2 separate regions of the Homo sapiens genome follow, and region 2 is linked to region 1. Evidence: fine-mapped expression QTL. Tissue or cell type: whole blood. Region 1 holds a variant in brackets; the other region holds the start of a gene. All regions are shown on one strand. Distances are from middle to middle.

Evidence for each region. PIP is the estimated chance that this variant, and not a neighbour inherited with it, causes the effect.
Region 2: it holds the start of INTS12, and the variant in region 1 is fine-mapped to the expression of INTS12 in whole blood (TOPMed, PIP 0.91).

What each region holds. Positions count from the first base shown.
Region 1 is chr4:105,655,773-105,663,882 of GRCh38, reverse strand. It overlaps ARHGEF38 (Rho guanine nucleotide exchange factor 38), which reads right to left. Exons shown (of 14, transcript NM_001242729.2): 10 at 4,518-4,829. Among named protein-coding and RNA genes, the nearest start is that of INTS12, 49 kb to the left of the region's middle. The variant C/T (reference allele first, on the strand shown) is at 4,698.
Region 2 is chr4:105,704,183-105,712,292 of GRCh38, reverse strand. INTS12 (integrator complex subunit 12) reads left to right here and starts at 3,604. Exons shown (of 8, transcript NM_020395.4): 1 at 3,604-3,655. It overlaps GSTCD (glutathione S-transferase C-terminal domain containing), which reads right to left and starts at 3,509. Exons shown (of 12, transcript NM_001370181.1): 1 at 3,277-3,509. It overlaps LOC124900748 (a long non-coding RNA gene), which reads right to left. Exons shown (of 3, transcript XR_007058215.1): 2 at 6,903-6,979; 3 at 6,319-6,414. LOC124900747 (a long non-coding RNA gene) reads right to left here and starts at 5,911. Exons shown (of 2, transcript XR_007058214.1): 1 at 5,870-5,911; 2 at 4,197-4,392. RefSeq lists an enhancer at 3,280-3,529.

The sequences.
Region 1 (8,110 bases):
TCCTCCAGCCTCAGCCTCCCGAGTAGCTGGGATTACAGGCATGTGCCACCACACCTGGCAAGTTTTTGTATTTTTAGTAGAGACAAGGTTTCGCCATGTTGGCTAGGCTGGTCTTGAACTCTCGGCCTCAAGTGATCCGCCTGCCTCAGCCTCCCAAAGTGCTGGGATTACAGGCGTGAGCCACCACATCCAGCCCAAAATGTGTTTTTTATATATAATGAAATATTCACAGTTAAAAATGAAAGAAATCCTATCACATGCTACAACACGAATGAATCTTGAGGACATTATATTAAGCAAAATAAGGCAGTCACAGAGACAAACACTGTATGATTCCATTTACATGAGGTATTTAAAGTAGTCAAATTTGTAGAAACAGAAAATAGAATGATGGTTGCAGGGACTTGGGGGAGGGGAGTATGGGGACTTGTTTAATGAGTATAGTTTCAGTTTTGCAAGATGAAAATGTTTTGGAGAGCTATTACACAACAATATAAGTATACTTAACACTACTGAAATGTACACTTAAAAATTCTTATAATGGTAAATTGTGGTTTTTTATACAATTAAAAATTTAAAAATTATTTACATTATTATTCTCATTTTAATTCATATGAGAAAATTTAAACAGAAGGATACATTAATTTACACAATGTAGTATAGCAGTGAGCAGGTATTAAAACAAGGTACTCTAGTGTTCTCTAATCACTATTCAATTCTGCCTTTCAGAAATACATGTAGTTATGCAAGATGTGTTACCATTGGGTAAGCTGTGTGAGGGTTGTACAGGATCTCCGTAATACTTCTTACCACTGCATATGAATCTCTAAGTATCACAAAATAAAAAGTTTAAATATACAGAACATATAAAATAAAGAATAAAATCATTTTAATGAGGATAACTTCTCCAAAATGCCTTTTACTTTAAGACACTAGAAATTTCTCAAAAACAAAGCATCTCTATGCTCTTGTTTGGCTATGGACTGCAATGTGAAAGATACTCAGATAATTTAAAATAGAAACTGAAAATGCCTTTAAAAATCACATGATTCAAAGTGGGGATCAAAGATACCTAAAATAACATGTCTTTTCTGACTAGTAAATTCCTGCCAAAGCTCAACTTTGTTCTGAACTTATGAACCCACCTTCTACCATGACCTCAGAATGAAATTATCGAAATAATTTGCAAATTAAATGTGTTTCATTGAGAAAGCAGTAACAAGAGATTATTTTTAAATAAATAGTGTTGGAGCAACTGGAAAGTCATTTGGAAAAAGATAAAATTAAATCCATATTTTACAACATGAACCAGGATAAAATCTACATGGATTGATTATTTAAATAAAAAAATATGAAACCCTAAATATACTAGAAGAAACACTGCTGAATTTATTTGGAGCCTTAAAATATGGAAGTCCTTTATAAGATTCAAAATCTAGAAGTCATAAAATGAAATTAATAAATCTGACTGCATTTTTTAAAAACACAAACATTAGCATGAAAAAAAATCACAAGTGAAGTCAAAGACAAAGGTTAACTTGGAAAAAGTAGTCTCAATTTTTATCTCAACAAAAGGCTCATCTCCCTAGCATATACATTGCTGCTAGAAATTAAGGAGAAAAATACCAAGAACCCAAAGAAAAAGGAGTAAAACACATGAACAACTAACTCACAGGAAGATAAATAGCCCTCATATGTGAAGACTCTCAATCTCACTAATACTTAAAGAAATGCAAATTAAAATTACACTTGAAACCTATTAGATTGGCAAAAATCCAGAGAAACCAGCTTTCTTACATGTTACAAGTGGGAATCCAAAATGGTACATAGTTAAGCAGGGAATCTGGCAATATCCAGCAAAATTACATACGTCTTTACCCTTTGACACAGAGATCCCACTTCTATCATTTCTATAAATCTGTCCTACAGATACATCTGTCCACGTATCATGACCCCGGCATTATTTGTAATAAAAAAACGTTGGAAATAGATCAAATACTCATCAATAGGGACAGGTTAATACACAAAAGAATACATATTGTATGATTCCATTTATATGAAGTACAAAACAGGTCAAACAATGTATGGTAATACAGGTTAGAAAAATGGTTACCTTTAGGTGCCTGGGAATGGTCATGAGTGATCTTTATGGGGAACTGGAAAGGGATTATATCTTGATCTGGGTGGTAGTTACACAGATGTGTATATGCAAATATTGATTGAGATGTGCAGTTCAGACTGGTGCAGTTTAATGTATAGAAGTTATTACTTCAATTTAATGAGTTTTAAAACAGTGCTGATCAGGGAAATACAAATAAAAACCACAATGAGATACCACTGCACACCCATTAGGATAGCTATAACAATAATAATAATAATAATAATAATAATAATAATAATAATAATAAAGAGGTGTGGAGAAATTGAAACTCTCAGTCGATACTGCTGAGAAGATAAAATAGTGCAGCCACTTTGGAAAACAGTCTGGTTGTTTTTCAAAAGGTTAAACATAGAGTTAACATATGATCCAGAAATTCCACTCCTAGGTATATAATCAACAGAAATGGGAACATATATCCACTAAAAACTTGAATGTTTACAGAAGCATTACTAATAACAGCCAAAAAATGGAAATAACCCAAATGCCCGTCAACTGACGAATGAATAAGTAAAGTGTGGTATATTCATACAATGGAATGTTATTTGGCGATAAAATGAATGAAATAATGAAACATGCTAGGCATGAAGAAACCCTGAAATGTTATGCTAAATAGAAGAAGCCAGTCACAAATAACCATGTACTGTATGATTTCATTTATACAAAATGCCCAGAATAGGAAAATCTGTACAGGCAGAAAGTAAATTGATAGTTGCCTAGAGCTGGGGAGGTTAGGAAAAAATGTGGATGGGTACAGGGTTCCTTTAGGGGGCCACGACAATGTTCTAAAATTGGTTGTGGCAATGGCTGCACAACTCTTGTGAATATACTAAAAATAATCAAATTGTATACTTTAAATAGGTGGAATGTATGGTATACAAATTATATCACAATAAAGTTATTTTAAAAAAAGGGAATGGTTATACATTATTATACAGCCATGCAGTAAGTTACTATAAAGCTGTAAAAAGAATTAGGAAGCTCAGGCTGGGCGCAGTGGCTCATGCCTATAATCCCAGCACTTTGGAAGGCCGAGGCGAGTGGATCACCTGAGGTCAGAAGTTCGAGACCAGCCTGACCAAAATGGAGAAACCCCGTCTCTACTAAAAACACAAAAATTAGCTGGGCTTGATGGCACATGCCTGTAATCCCAGCTACTTAGGAGGCTGAGGCAGGAAAATCGCTTGAACCCGGAAGGTGGAGGTTGCAGTGAGCCGAGATTGGGCCTTTGCACTCCAACCTGGGCAACAAAAGTGAAACTCCATCCCCCCCCACCAAAAAAAAAAAAAAGAATGAGGAAGCTCTTTATGTACTATTATAGATGCATTCTCAGAATATATTGTTAAAGAGCAAGTGCAGAATGGTATATATAATATGCTGTTTTTTACTTTTAAGAAATAAAAATATATACTTGCATTTATTGTTACTGGCATGAGAAAGCACTAAATGCATAAAAATAAACTAACAAAAATGGGGATGAGAGTGGCGAATGGGATGCTAGAGGAACAGGTATGAGTGTGAGACTGATTATACATTTACACAGTTTTGGCTTTTGAACCCTGTAAACATAGCCCTCGTTTATTCAATTTAATTTAATTCAAAGTATAAGTTAAAAGTTAATTAATGCACAATAGAAAATAAAGTAGGGACAATTATTTCTGCTCCAGGTGTTACCCATTGAATAGCTGTCCATCTCATTCAGATGAGAACTAGTGTAGTTGAAACGTAGGGCCAAGAAACCAAGCTAATTTTTCAAAAGTTGATATAAGTTGTAAATATCTTTCTTCCTCATCAGGAAAATAATTATAAAATTATATCCTAATGGGAGGCGAAGCTACACACACACACACACACACACACACACACACACACACAAAACCAGGCTTCTCTTTCTTGGGGAAAAATGAAATCAAAACAAAGCATGGTTTGAATGTTATCCTGCATCTTTCATTATGCTGAGATGGCCTTCTTTTTAGAGCCACATCTTAAATAGTCACAGTTAACATCTAAGAACTATTGATCAGAAAAAAATACAAAATATAAATTGTTGATAAGCTTCAATGTTGCATCAGGCAGGTGGAGCAAGGCTGAAAGGTGTTTGGTATTTGAAAAGGCATCTCCAAAAAAGAATTACAAATGTGTAAGTCACAGTAAACCTGAACTAGGAAACCCTCTTTGAGTTTCCCATGGATAAGACAGATAAGGAACAGGAGACTATCTGACTGGATTTAGTTAAAATAAATACACACACACCACACGGCATACATGTGCACACTCTGAACAGGGCTTTCGTATGGGTGTGGTTTCTAGCAGATCCAGTAGGCCAAGGTAGCTAGCTAGGTGTTGGTGCTGTGCTTACCGGCACAAGTGTGGAGTAAGCCTGCTGTGCCACGAGCATCAGGTCCCTAAGGAGGGTAATGAAGCTGCATAGACAGTTCAACAGAATCTTCCGAGCAGCCTGGTTGAATGCCTGGAGCTCCTCCACAAGCTGGGCGTTGAGGGCCTCATACTCCTTTTTGGCCAAGTCTGACTCCTCTCC[C/T]GTTGATCGCTGCAGGTAGCTGTTGCAATCCAGCAGTTTGTCATAGCGTTTCTGGATGAGCTTGTGAGGCCCTGGGAATAAGGACAGCAGGGCTGACAAGGGGGTCAGGATGAGTCTCTGTAAGTGAGATGCCTGCCAAAAGAAAAAATGAGCCCATTTCAGAGAGAGGATCAGCCCATACCTTGTCCAGTTCTGCTATCCATAGGTTTACCTTTTCCCCCACGAGAAGCACAAAAGAAAACAGGAAAGCACCTACCCAGATTAAAAGAGGATCTGATCATTTTGTGTCTGGCTAAACCTATTCAAAGACTTAAAACAGGAGCTCTAGGTTGTAACATTGAACCTAAAAAGTGAGCAGGAAGAGGAATACAAAAGTTAAAGCCTGCTCACCCAAAATATAACTCCACTTTTTTCTCTACAGTCTTTGGTTTTGTCATTGTCATCTCCTTCAACACTTTCTCATTCCCCTCCTTTCTCATCCCAGAGCCAGCACTTGAGGGTAGGGGGGAATCTCTAGCCTTTGACTACCAAGACTGTGTAAAAGATTCACCATATCGCTCCCACCTTCTGCTGGCAGCAAAAGGAATATAGTTCATCCCATAGGAGACTGTACCCTATTCTTCCCATATCAGCCCCAAATCCCTGGCTACCCTGGAGGCTTATGTTTGATAGTGGAATTATATCCCCTATACAGATAGTAACCCCTTAATAAAGGTATTTTAATCTTGAAACAGAAATGACCACAGAGTTGTAACTTGTTTTATTTTTAATTAATTAATTAATTTTGAGACAGGGTCTCACTCTGTCGCCCAGGCTGGAGTGCAGTGGCACTTTCTCAGCTCACTGCAGCCTCTGCTCAAGCCATCCTCCCACCTCAGCCTCCCGAATAGCTAGGACTACAGGAATGTATCACCACGCTTGGCTAATTTTTAAAATTTTTGGTAGAGATACGGTCTCACTCTATTGCCCAAGATGGTCTTGAGCACTTAGGCTCAAGCAATCCTCTCACCTTGGCCTACACATTCTGTTTTAAATACATTAAAGGATTAAGCTGATGCTGTTTCTGTGTCTTAAATTGTTTACACTTTTTGGCCTGAGTCATTGAAAATGAACTTCATAGAACTGCCCAACTTCATGACATAACCTGATCATCCTAGATTTAATTTCTTCTATTTCTCTTCTGTTTTACATTTGCTGACTGCCCTACTTTACCCTTTATCATATATGCTTATATGATATTTTATGATAATTTGGAAGTAGGTTTCTCTTTTGTAACCCGAAAGCTATCCTAGGGAATCAGTATCTGAGCAGCAGCTTGTATTAATTAACTTAAATGGCCCCTGGTAAGTTGGTCTGAACTCATGGGAAATCTAGGGGAGAGGGAAACCAATCTCTTATTGGCACCAGCAATAGCCAACACAAATTAAATTTGATGTCTAGCTTATGAGATAGTCAATATACACCTAGAGACTGTTTAATGAGTCCCTTGATAAACAAAGAATCTATTTACTGTATCTGGGATAAATTACTATGTTTGTGACTTGACTGGATTCTACAGGTAATCTAATTACAGTATTATATATATATATATATCCAGTGACTCACAGACACAAAATGATTCACCTTTACTTAGGAATTGTTGTTAGAACAAATAAGAATTAGACTTTATTATTTTGTCCTAAAAAAGTGTAGATATGTATTACTCATGGTTAGATAAGAATAACTGCTCTGCCTTTAGACAGATTTTGAGTTCTTAATATTTGATTTTTAAAAAGAGTTCTATATATGTTATCCATAAAAGTTACTTTTATATTGAGCCTTCTCACAATTTTTTTAACTTAGCCTAATTAATCATCTTGTGGTTTTATGCAAGGTATGCAGGACACTTCTGGCTTCTTTCCATCAAAGTCTGGAGCATGCTTGCTGAGGGAGAAGCTACATATCACACTTTCAGGTGGTACTCAATAAATATATATTAACTTAATGTATTGGAACTAAGCTAAAGAGCAAACCTTTAAAGACTTCTAGAATGTGTGCTCTCTATAATTAAATGCAGAAAATACATAAAGAACTAGCCACACCTTTTCCATTAAACATATACTGTAAAAACTATCTATCTATCTATCTATCTATCATCTATCTATCTATCTATCTATCATCTATCTATCTCATCATCACCATCATCTATCTGCCTGTACCTATCCATCCATCCATTCATCTGTCGTTGACCTGTTTCTCTATCATATTAGCTCAGATGTAAGCCTGACTTTCCATTCCCCAGTGCCAGAAAAGCAAAATGCTCCTGCCTGGTTTTTCTACTAGATCGGGGGCTGTATGACTTCCTAGGGTTTGGAATTATGTGAGGCTCTTCACTGGTTGTCACAACGTCTTGATGTGAGGGGATGTTACTGAGATTTTGAGCCTGGTGGGCCAAAAATGCTGAACATCCTCCACCAAAAGGCCACTCCATGAAGATTTGTCTTACCCAAAATGCCTATAATGCCAACACGAAAATGCCACTTTCAAGATGATCAGTCTATCTTCTCTATAATTCTTGAAATACTACTATGAAATAATAATACCTATAGAAACACAAGGCACTAAATTAAAATTAATATTACCCAGAGTAACTTACTACTAAAATGTGTTATTGGCTCAAGCATGTTTTTATGATTCCCAAGATATATTTTATAGAACTCTTACAAAATAAATGTTTTACCGTGGAACAAAATAAATAACATATGACTCTTAAATAAAAGTCTTTCTCAATAGGAAGTCTTTGCCTTCCAGTATATAGCATGTTAATAAGTGTCATATCCTCAGTGAGTACCTTTGCTCTTTCTGTAAGGACTCAAGGCATTTCCAGAGACTTGTTTAAGAAAAGCATAGCTCACTTGACCCCAGGAGTTTGAGACCAGCCTGGGCAACATGGTGAAACCCCGCCTCTACAAAAAATGCAAAAAATCTTCTAGGTGTGGTGGTGTGCCCCTTTAGTTCCAGCTACTCGAGAGGCTGAGGAGCGAGGATTGCTTAAGCCCAAGAGGCAGAGGTTTCAGTGAGCTGAGATTGTTCCACTGCACTCCAGCCTGGGCAACAGAGCCAGATCCTGTCCCAGAAAAAAGAAAAAAGAAAAAGAAAAGCAAAGCTTTCTAACTTAATAATTTCTTAATATTTCACATGCAGACTTAAACTAAATATTAATTTTAAAAGCTGCACTGACACTGGCTACCCCTAGAAACACAATCTGTGGTCCTCTTAAATTTCCATCATAGTAAAATCCTCACTAATCCACTTTAAAAATATTAAATGATTTAAAAAAATCCCATTTAAATCTACTAATTTTGACATTAATATTTGCTTTAGTGCATGTTTTATTTCTGACTCCAGAAAAACAAACAAAAAGCAGCTTTCCT
Region 2 (8,110 bases), 48 kb before region 1:
TTGATTTTTCTGCATAAATATTAACTCAGAACAGCCTCTCCTGACTGCCTGAATTGAAAAAGCACACCCTAGCCTCTTACCTAGCTTCCCTTTTTCTTCATAGCTCTTATCACCTAACACTATAACATCTCCAGTGCTTAATGAACTGAAACTTTAGTTCAAGGAATGAATGTACATATATGAATGTCAGAAATCACTGTCTGAGAGTATTATTAATAACTTTAGTCTTGGTACAATGTGTATCTCATTCTTCATGACACCATTCTTTCTTTTCCAAATTAATAACTCTATTTTAAGGACCAACTAAGTATAAATTAAAATGAAGAAATAAGATCACCTTTGTGAGGTGAATCGGGAAAAGTATAAATGGAATCTAACCAAACTCATAAATAAAGCAAGCACAGAAGTTTTTATGTATACTTATATCCAGGGCAAAGGAACTAAGAATCTTAACTAGATTCCATACATGTGCCTAGCAAGAATATTTATAAAACAAGAATTATAAAGTAATAGATTAGAGCCGAGACTGTTGAGCCAGACCACCTGGGTGCAAATATACTGGTTCTGATTCTTAGTAGCTATAAAAAACTTTTCTGCATATCTGTTTCCTCACTTATATAATAAAATGGAGACAATAATAACTGTACCTACCATGTAGTGTGCCATACAGAAAAAAGCTTGTCACATATTAAGTCCTTAAATAAATACTAGCTACTATTATTTCTTTATAATTTATAACCAAATTCCTTATCAACTGGCACTATTAAAATATGCAAACCTTGATGGGCAAAACCCAAATTATGGTTTATATTTTCAAGCTTCTTTCCATGAAAGGTAAAGGATTTATATTGATTGAAAAGTTTTTCCCAACCAAATACTGAAAAAAAACATATTTGTTACTGAGGCTGAAAGCCAGGGAATCATGAAATGGTAAAATATAAACGTGAAACCCTTAATCCATGTGCATATCAACCTATTGTACAAAATAAGAAGTTCAACACAGTTTATAAGTATGAAAAATCACAAACACTTACTTTTCTTAAAGATTAAAATTTAAACCTGCCTAAATTCTCTCCTACATCATATGTTCAACATTTTGAATTTTATAACTTATCTTGTGTTTTATGCTTTTCATAAAACAACAGTATTTGGCTGAAAATTGTACCCTATTTTATTACAATAATATAGATTTAACCAAAACAAAACAAAACAAAAAAACATGCCCCTCAACAGATAGATAGCAGCCAATTACCTTAAATATTTAGGGTCAAAAACGATAAGAAAAACACTGAGATTTTTTCAAGCTCATTAAATACGTAATATGGGATGCAGTTAAGTCCTAGAGAACAAAAGCCAGTGATTAAAATTAGCTGTTTTCTTATCTGGTAAAGAAGTAGGAAAAGTTTTTAAGTGAAAAGCTTACAGTAACCTTAGCCACAAACGAAGTGTGTAATCTCTCTGGAGAATCAGGGAATCATCTGTTGCCATGGAGTCATAATGCCTTCAGCTAAACCCGACCTCATAATTAACAGTGATCGACAGCGCAAATGGCTAACATGTTACCAAGTATGAAATAAAATTACTGAATTTTCACAGCAAACAATACCTGTGCTTGTTTTAATCTAAATGGTTTCAATATCTGCATTCCAAGTATTTATTCTTTGTTAGAAAAGCTAATTGGATACTCAGTATTTATTTTTATTTAAAAATCACAGATGATGAAACAAAAGCTACAAGTAAAACAAGTTTAAAAAAACAAAAACAGGCCGGGCGCGGTGGCTCACGCCTGTAATCCCACCACTTTGGGAAGCCGAGGCGGGCGGATCATTTGAGGTCAGGAGTTTGAGACCAGCCTGGCCAACATGGTGAAACCCCTCCTCGACTGAAAAAAAAAAAAAAAAAAAAGGAGCCGAGTGTGATTGTGGGCGCCTGTAATCCCAACTACTCGGGAGGCTGAGGCAGGAGAATTGCTTGAGCCCGGGAGGCGGATGTTGCCATTGCAATCCATCCCCAGGCGACAGAGCAGGACTCCAGCTCAAAAAAAAAAAAAAAAAAAAAAATTGATGGGCCCACTACTACAGAAGCTCAAGTTTGAGCTGTGTTTAAATTAAAGCAAAAACACGTAGAAGTGCAAAGTATATAAAATAAAAAGAAATGATGATTCTCAAATCTCATTGACCTTTTCAGTCTTATTTTTGAAGTGAGACCTCACAAAACGATACTTTCAGGTGTAATACAAACACAATTTTTAGTAATGAGTGTGCTTAAAGCAATCCTCTCAGTGGTGTATGCTCCCCATCAGGCAGTTAAAAAAAAAGAAAAAAAAACCCGCATAGCTTAATGTTTATTAAATATGACAGCGAATCACTTAGTTGTGTTATAACAGTTTATTATCATGGATTTAAATGACTATGTTTACATGTTTAAAATTATCACATCACTAGTTCTTGCTAGCTTTTGCATTTTCTCCTGTAAACATTGTTTTTACAGATAAGCTTAGGTAAAATAGAAATACACCACCTTCTTTATCAATAATGTAGCACACAATATATTACTAAAGCTGGCATTTTCTTGATATTCAAGAATTTATGACAAGGAATGGGATCCTGGCATTAAGAATAAAGGGGAAAAAAACAAGTCATCTCATCCCAAAACCAGGTAGAAAGTTGGGATGGGAAGTACGTGTATTAGCAAACGTTTTTGAAACCAAAGCAACTTTCATGCAAATTAAACTTTCTATAGAAGTTAAAAACCCAAGAGATACTGCTGTGATGACAAAACATAAGCAAATGGCCCCAAATGAAGCAAGTCCTTTGGAGTAAATGTTAAGTAGTATTCACATAGAACTGCTTTCTGCAATCAGGAAGGGCTGGAATGGAAAACTCAATGCCAAAGAGAGAAGAGAAGTTAGTGTGACCCAAGAGGTCTTGAAGTAACACTTAACAGCAAATATCAAACCACCCCAACCAACGCCTCCAACTGGAAGCTGCCCCATTTCTCCATCAGCAGAGGAAGACATGAGGGACTGGCTAGGGGGAAACTGGGAAACGCGTACTACCGAGAAGCCCAGAGCCCTCAACCCGCACCTTCAGCAGGAGTGGCCAAAAAGGAGTTTGAGGCGGCCCCAGGGCGGGAGAAAAATCAGGACGATGATACCACGCCCTTGTCCTTCCCACCCTTCCCCCGCATCCTCAGCCCTGCAGACCCCCGAAGAAAAGACCAGTTCTTAGGGGGTCGCGGAGGCTGAGAAGCCGGCGGCCCGAGCGCCCTCTTTACCTGGTCGCAGAGGCGCGGCCAGGCAGGGAGGGTGCGTGAGCGTGTCGGCGACCTGGGCCGCCTGCGCCTTCCCGCCCAGTCCGAGCTGGAATTCCAAGGCTGCCTCTGGGAGCTGCTGCCCGCAGACCACTCGCCTCCACAGACGCCAGGAGAAAAACGACAGCCACCTTATGTGGAAAATACTCGCGCCGGCCGTCATTCATAATCCGGCGGACCGGAAAAAGGGAAGTAACGTCACTTCCTACTGTCGCACTGCCAAACGTTTCCCCCGCCCCTACTGTGGGAACCTTTGTTTTCCTGCTTTCGGAGCCGGCCAGTGCGGGAACCGTTTCCGAAGGGACCACCGGGAACAGACGGATCGGCAGGGCGGGGCGGAACGGTGAGTTATGCTGAGCGACTCTGCTCCTGGCCTCCTGGAGGCTCGAGACCCCCGCGCCAGGAGCGAGGTGGGAGAGTAGCTACGTGGGGTATTAGTTTCCTCGCTCCTCAAGGGGAATCATAATTTACGGGCGGTTGCGTGCCCTAGACTGACTGCTCTCCCCTTTCAGTGAGGACTGTGCTTCCTCCGAGGGAGTTGCGGGCCGGGACATGCGGACCGAGCATATTTCTAGGTCTAGGGACAAGGGACTTGGAATCCTGCCTCGGACTTTGTCGGAGGGTTTTAGTGACTTCTCTACGTAGCTCCCTCATTGTCTCTCATCTTTTGGCTCCCCTGTCAAGGACCATCCCCCATTCTAGGACTTCGATGTGTGATGCTTTGATCAAAGGATTGACATTCCTTTTCTAAGTGTTTGCTGTCAGCTTTCAGCCACTTGATTGGTTTGGAATCGGAGCCTTTTCTCCTGCGATTCCAGGTGTCCCTAAGGTATCAGTGTTATCCAGAACCAAGAACTCAGTGGAGGAATGAAAAAGGCAGCATCTTTAAAATAATGTTTATTGGAAGGGGTTGCAAGAGCTTGCGAAGTCATGAAGAACAAAGTTTTTTAGAGCCATTATGAAATGGCAACGATAATACTGCACTCTATGTGAACAGTTTCTGTTTCCTTCATCTGGGGCACGTGCATATGATCAACTTTGGACTTCTTTTGAGATTGCCAGGTAGGGTGAAAAATGGATCTAGGAGAAAGCACATACTTATATTTATATATGAATGCCCAATTTAGACTGGAGAGATCACAGAAGCCTTATAAGGTGACATTTACGCAAAAAACCTAGTTCGTTCATTCGATAAATATTTTTGAGCCCTTATTAAGTTTCAAGCACTAGGGAAATAACAGTGAACAAAACAAGTTCCTGCTGTCATCAAGTTTACAGACCAGTGGGATTAATGAATTAAGCAAGACAGGCGAAAGATTGTGAGAATTTTACAGATAGGAACATTGTACTACAAGTCCCCAGTCGTGAAAGAGGTGATTGCTTTGCTTTTGCTTTTTTGATGTTTGGAGTTTTTTTTGTGGGGGCAGGGGTGAGTTACTTTTGTGATTTTTGCTGAAGGGACCTTGGAAATGGCTACAATTGTGTAGAAGGAGAGATAAGACCACTATACTTTGATCACTTAATTCCAGTAATTCTATAGCCATTATTTTGTTGTACTTTGCAAAGTGGCAAAGAGATAGGCAAAAAGATAAATATAGACTCTGCCCTTAAAGTACTCAGAGTTTTGTAGGGGACATAACACTTGTGCCAAAAAAAAAAAAAAATGCTTCAAGGGAGAAAGTTGCAATACCATGAAAAAGCACTATGAGATATCCTTGAATGGAGAGACTATTAATAGGGTTTGGAATGGAGAGGGGCACAGCAGCTGTCAGTCAAATCTTCATGAGAAGTATTTGAATAGGGTCTTGATAGGATGTAGATATATAAAAATAGGTAAAGAGCTTCCTGGACAAAAAAAATAAGAGTGGCAGGGTCAGCTAGCTATAAGGCAGATCTGGGGATGATGAATGATAATTTTTGTGCCAGTTACTGAATCTTCTTAAATGCTAGGCCAAGAAATTTGGTCTTTATTTCGAAGGTGGTAGAAAGCCCTAACTTCTCAGCAAGAATTTTTTTTTTTATTTTAATGAAAAAGAAGAAAACTGGGTTTCAGGAAAATTCATATGGCAACAATGTTGAAGTCAAGGAAAATAACGAGGTTATTGCCATAGTTCAAGTAAGCTAATAAAACCTGAATTTCAGTAGTAGCAGTGGAAGTGAAAAGTAGGACAAGTGTGAAAAATATTGCCGTCAGAATCCACAGGAATTCTGATTATTTGAATATAAGGAGTAGGGAAAGACTCAGTGAAGGAAAGACTTTGGTCTCAAACCTGACTAAAAGAAAGTTGTGTCATTTATTGAAAGTAAGAGCAGGACAAGGAACTTTTCGGGAAGATAATCAGAATCTCAATTTTAGTTGTAACTGAATTTGAGATGCCATTAAGGAATCACATAGACACATACACTAAGCATTTGGAAACATGGGATTCAAATTTAAGAGATTTGGCTCGCACTTGTAATCCCAGCACTTTGGGAAGCCACAACAGGAGGATTGTTTGAGACCAGATAAGAGCAACATAGCAAGACCCTGGCTCTACTTAAAAAACAACAAAATTACCTGGGCATGGTTACGGTGGTGCATGCCTGTAGTCCTAGCTGCTTGGGAGGCTGAGGCAGGAGGATCACTTGAGCCCAGGAGTTCGAGGCTGCAGTGAGCCATGATCTCAGTGCACTCCAACCTGGGTGACAGAGCAAGACCATGTCTCAAAAAAAAAAAAAAAAAAAAAGAGATTGAAGTTGGGGTAAAACATATTAAATCATCTACCCAGAGATGATAGTTGAAAACCTGATGTGTATAAGATTACCAAGAAGAAACTGCTAGCAGAACTAAGAAGATAGCCAAGGACAAATACTTGGACAATACCAAAAGCAACAAAGAAGATAAGCCAAAGAAAGAGTAGTCAGAGATAGAAGAGGAAAAACAGAAAAGTTGAGTATAACAGAACTCAAGGGAAGAGAAAGTTTTATGAAATTGGAAGTAGATAACAAGTATTTACTTGGCCAACATTTACAGTTATTTGCTGTTTTCCAGGAACTCTGCCAGACAGGGGTTACAACAGTAGGCAAGACCAATCCACTGCCTGCCTTCATGGAACTTACATTCTAATGAGAAAGAAAGATTATTTACATAATTAACAGTGTGATTAATATTACAAATAAGTACAGAATGTTTTTGGGCTATGTAACAGTGAAACTTCTAGTTTTGTTGAGGGAATGTGCAGGAAAAACTGAAACTTGAGAGGTGACTTAAGATGGAGGTGGGGGTGGCACACTTTCTACTGAAGTGCTAAGGTAAGAAAGAGTATATTGGAGGACTTGAAATAAGTCAGATAGCTATAACAGAGAGAGTGAGAATGGCCTAAGATACTAGGTAACATTTAATGAGTGTCAACTATGTGTCAGGTACTGTTGTAACTGCTTTATATGTATTATTAATCATGTAGAGCAATGGTCCACAACCTTTTTGGCACCAGGGACCAGTTTCATTGAAGACATGGTTTCAGGATGATTCAAGTGCATTACATTTATTGTGCACTTTATTTCTCTTATTACTACATGGTAATATATAATAAAATAATTGGACAACTCACCATAATGTAGAATCAGTGGGAACCTTGAGCTTGCTTTCCTGCAGCTAGACGGTTTCATCTGGGGATGATGGGGTATACTGTGACAGATCATCAGGCATTAGATTCTCATGAGGAGCACACAACGTAGATCACACACATGCACAGTTCACATAGGATTCGCATTCCTATGAGAATCTAATTCCACCAGTGATGTGACAGGAGGCAGAGCTCAGGTAGTAATGCAAGTGATGGGAGTGGCTGTAAATACAAATGAAGCTTCCCTCGCTTGCCTACTGCTCACCTCCTGCTGCATGGCCTGAAGGTTAGGGACCCCTGATGTAGAGAATTGGAGACCTTGTTAAGAATCTTATTCTTGAACCTTTGGATTGTGAGAAGTGATAAAAGGATTTTAAGCAAGTGAGTGATATGAAAAGGTTTAAAGGGATGACAAGAGTGATTGTGGGAGACTGATTAAGCTTTTGCAGTGGGCCAGATAATAGATGATGCTAGGTTGGTCTAGGGTGGTAGTAGTAAGGATTGAAAAGGGTGGATAGATTTGAGGTATGTTTAAGAGGTTTGGTTATTGAATTGGGGGTGGGAATTAAGGAAGTGGGAAGAGTTAAAGCTGCTTCTGGGTTACTGGCTTGGGCAATAGGGTAAATATCATTTGAAAAAGGGATTACTAGAGGAAGAACTGGTTAGGAGAAAAGGGAATAGTGTATGAGTGGCTCTGTTGGAGACACGTTGCATAGGAGGCACCAATGATATATCCATGTCAAGCTGGCAGTTGGATCTTGGGAGAGACACATGGACTGCAGAGATGTATTAGTAATCACTGGCAAAAGACTATATAGATCAAATTGTCTAGGGCAATAATTCCCAAACTTTAGAGTAGATAGAATTGCCTGGAAGGCTTAACACAGATTTCTAGACCCTACTCCCAGAGTTTTTTCTTCAGTAGGCCTAGGAATGGAGACCAAGAGTTTGTATTTCTAAGTTCTGACGTGATACCTATGCTGCTGACTCAGAGAACACATTTTTGGAAGAAGATGTAGAACAAGTCAAGAAGAGACCCAGAACCTAGCACTGAGGAACTCATTTTTAATTGGATAGGAGGAACCTACAAAGATGACTGACAAAGAAGTAGGAGGGACAATCGTATGTATTAGGTTTACCTGACTGAGGCGGCGAATGACTCATGAGAGCATTTTCATGGAATAGTGGGACAA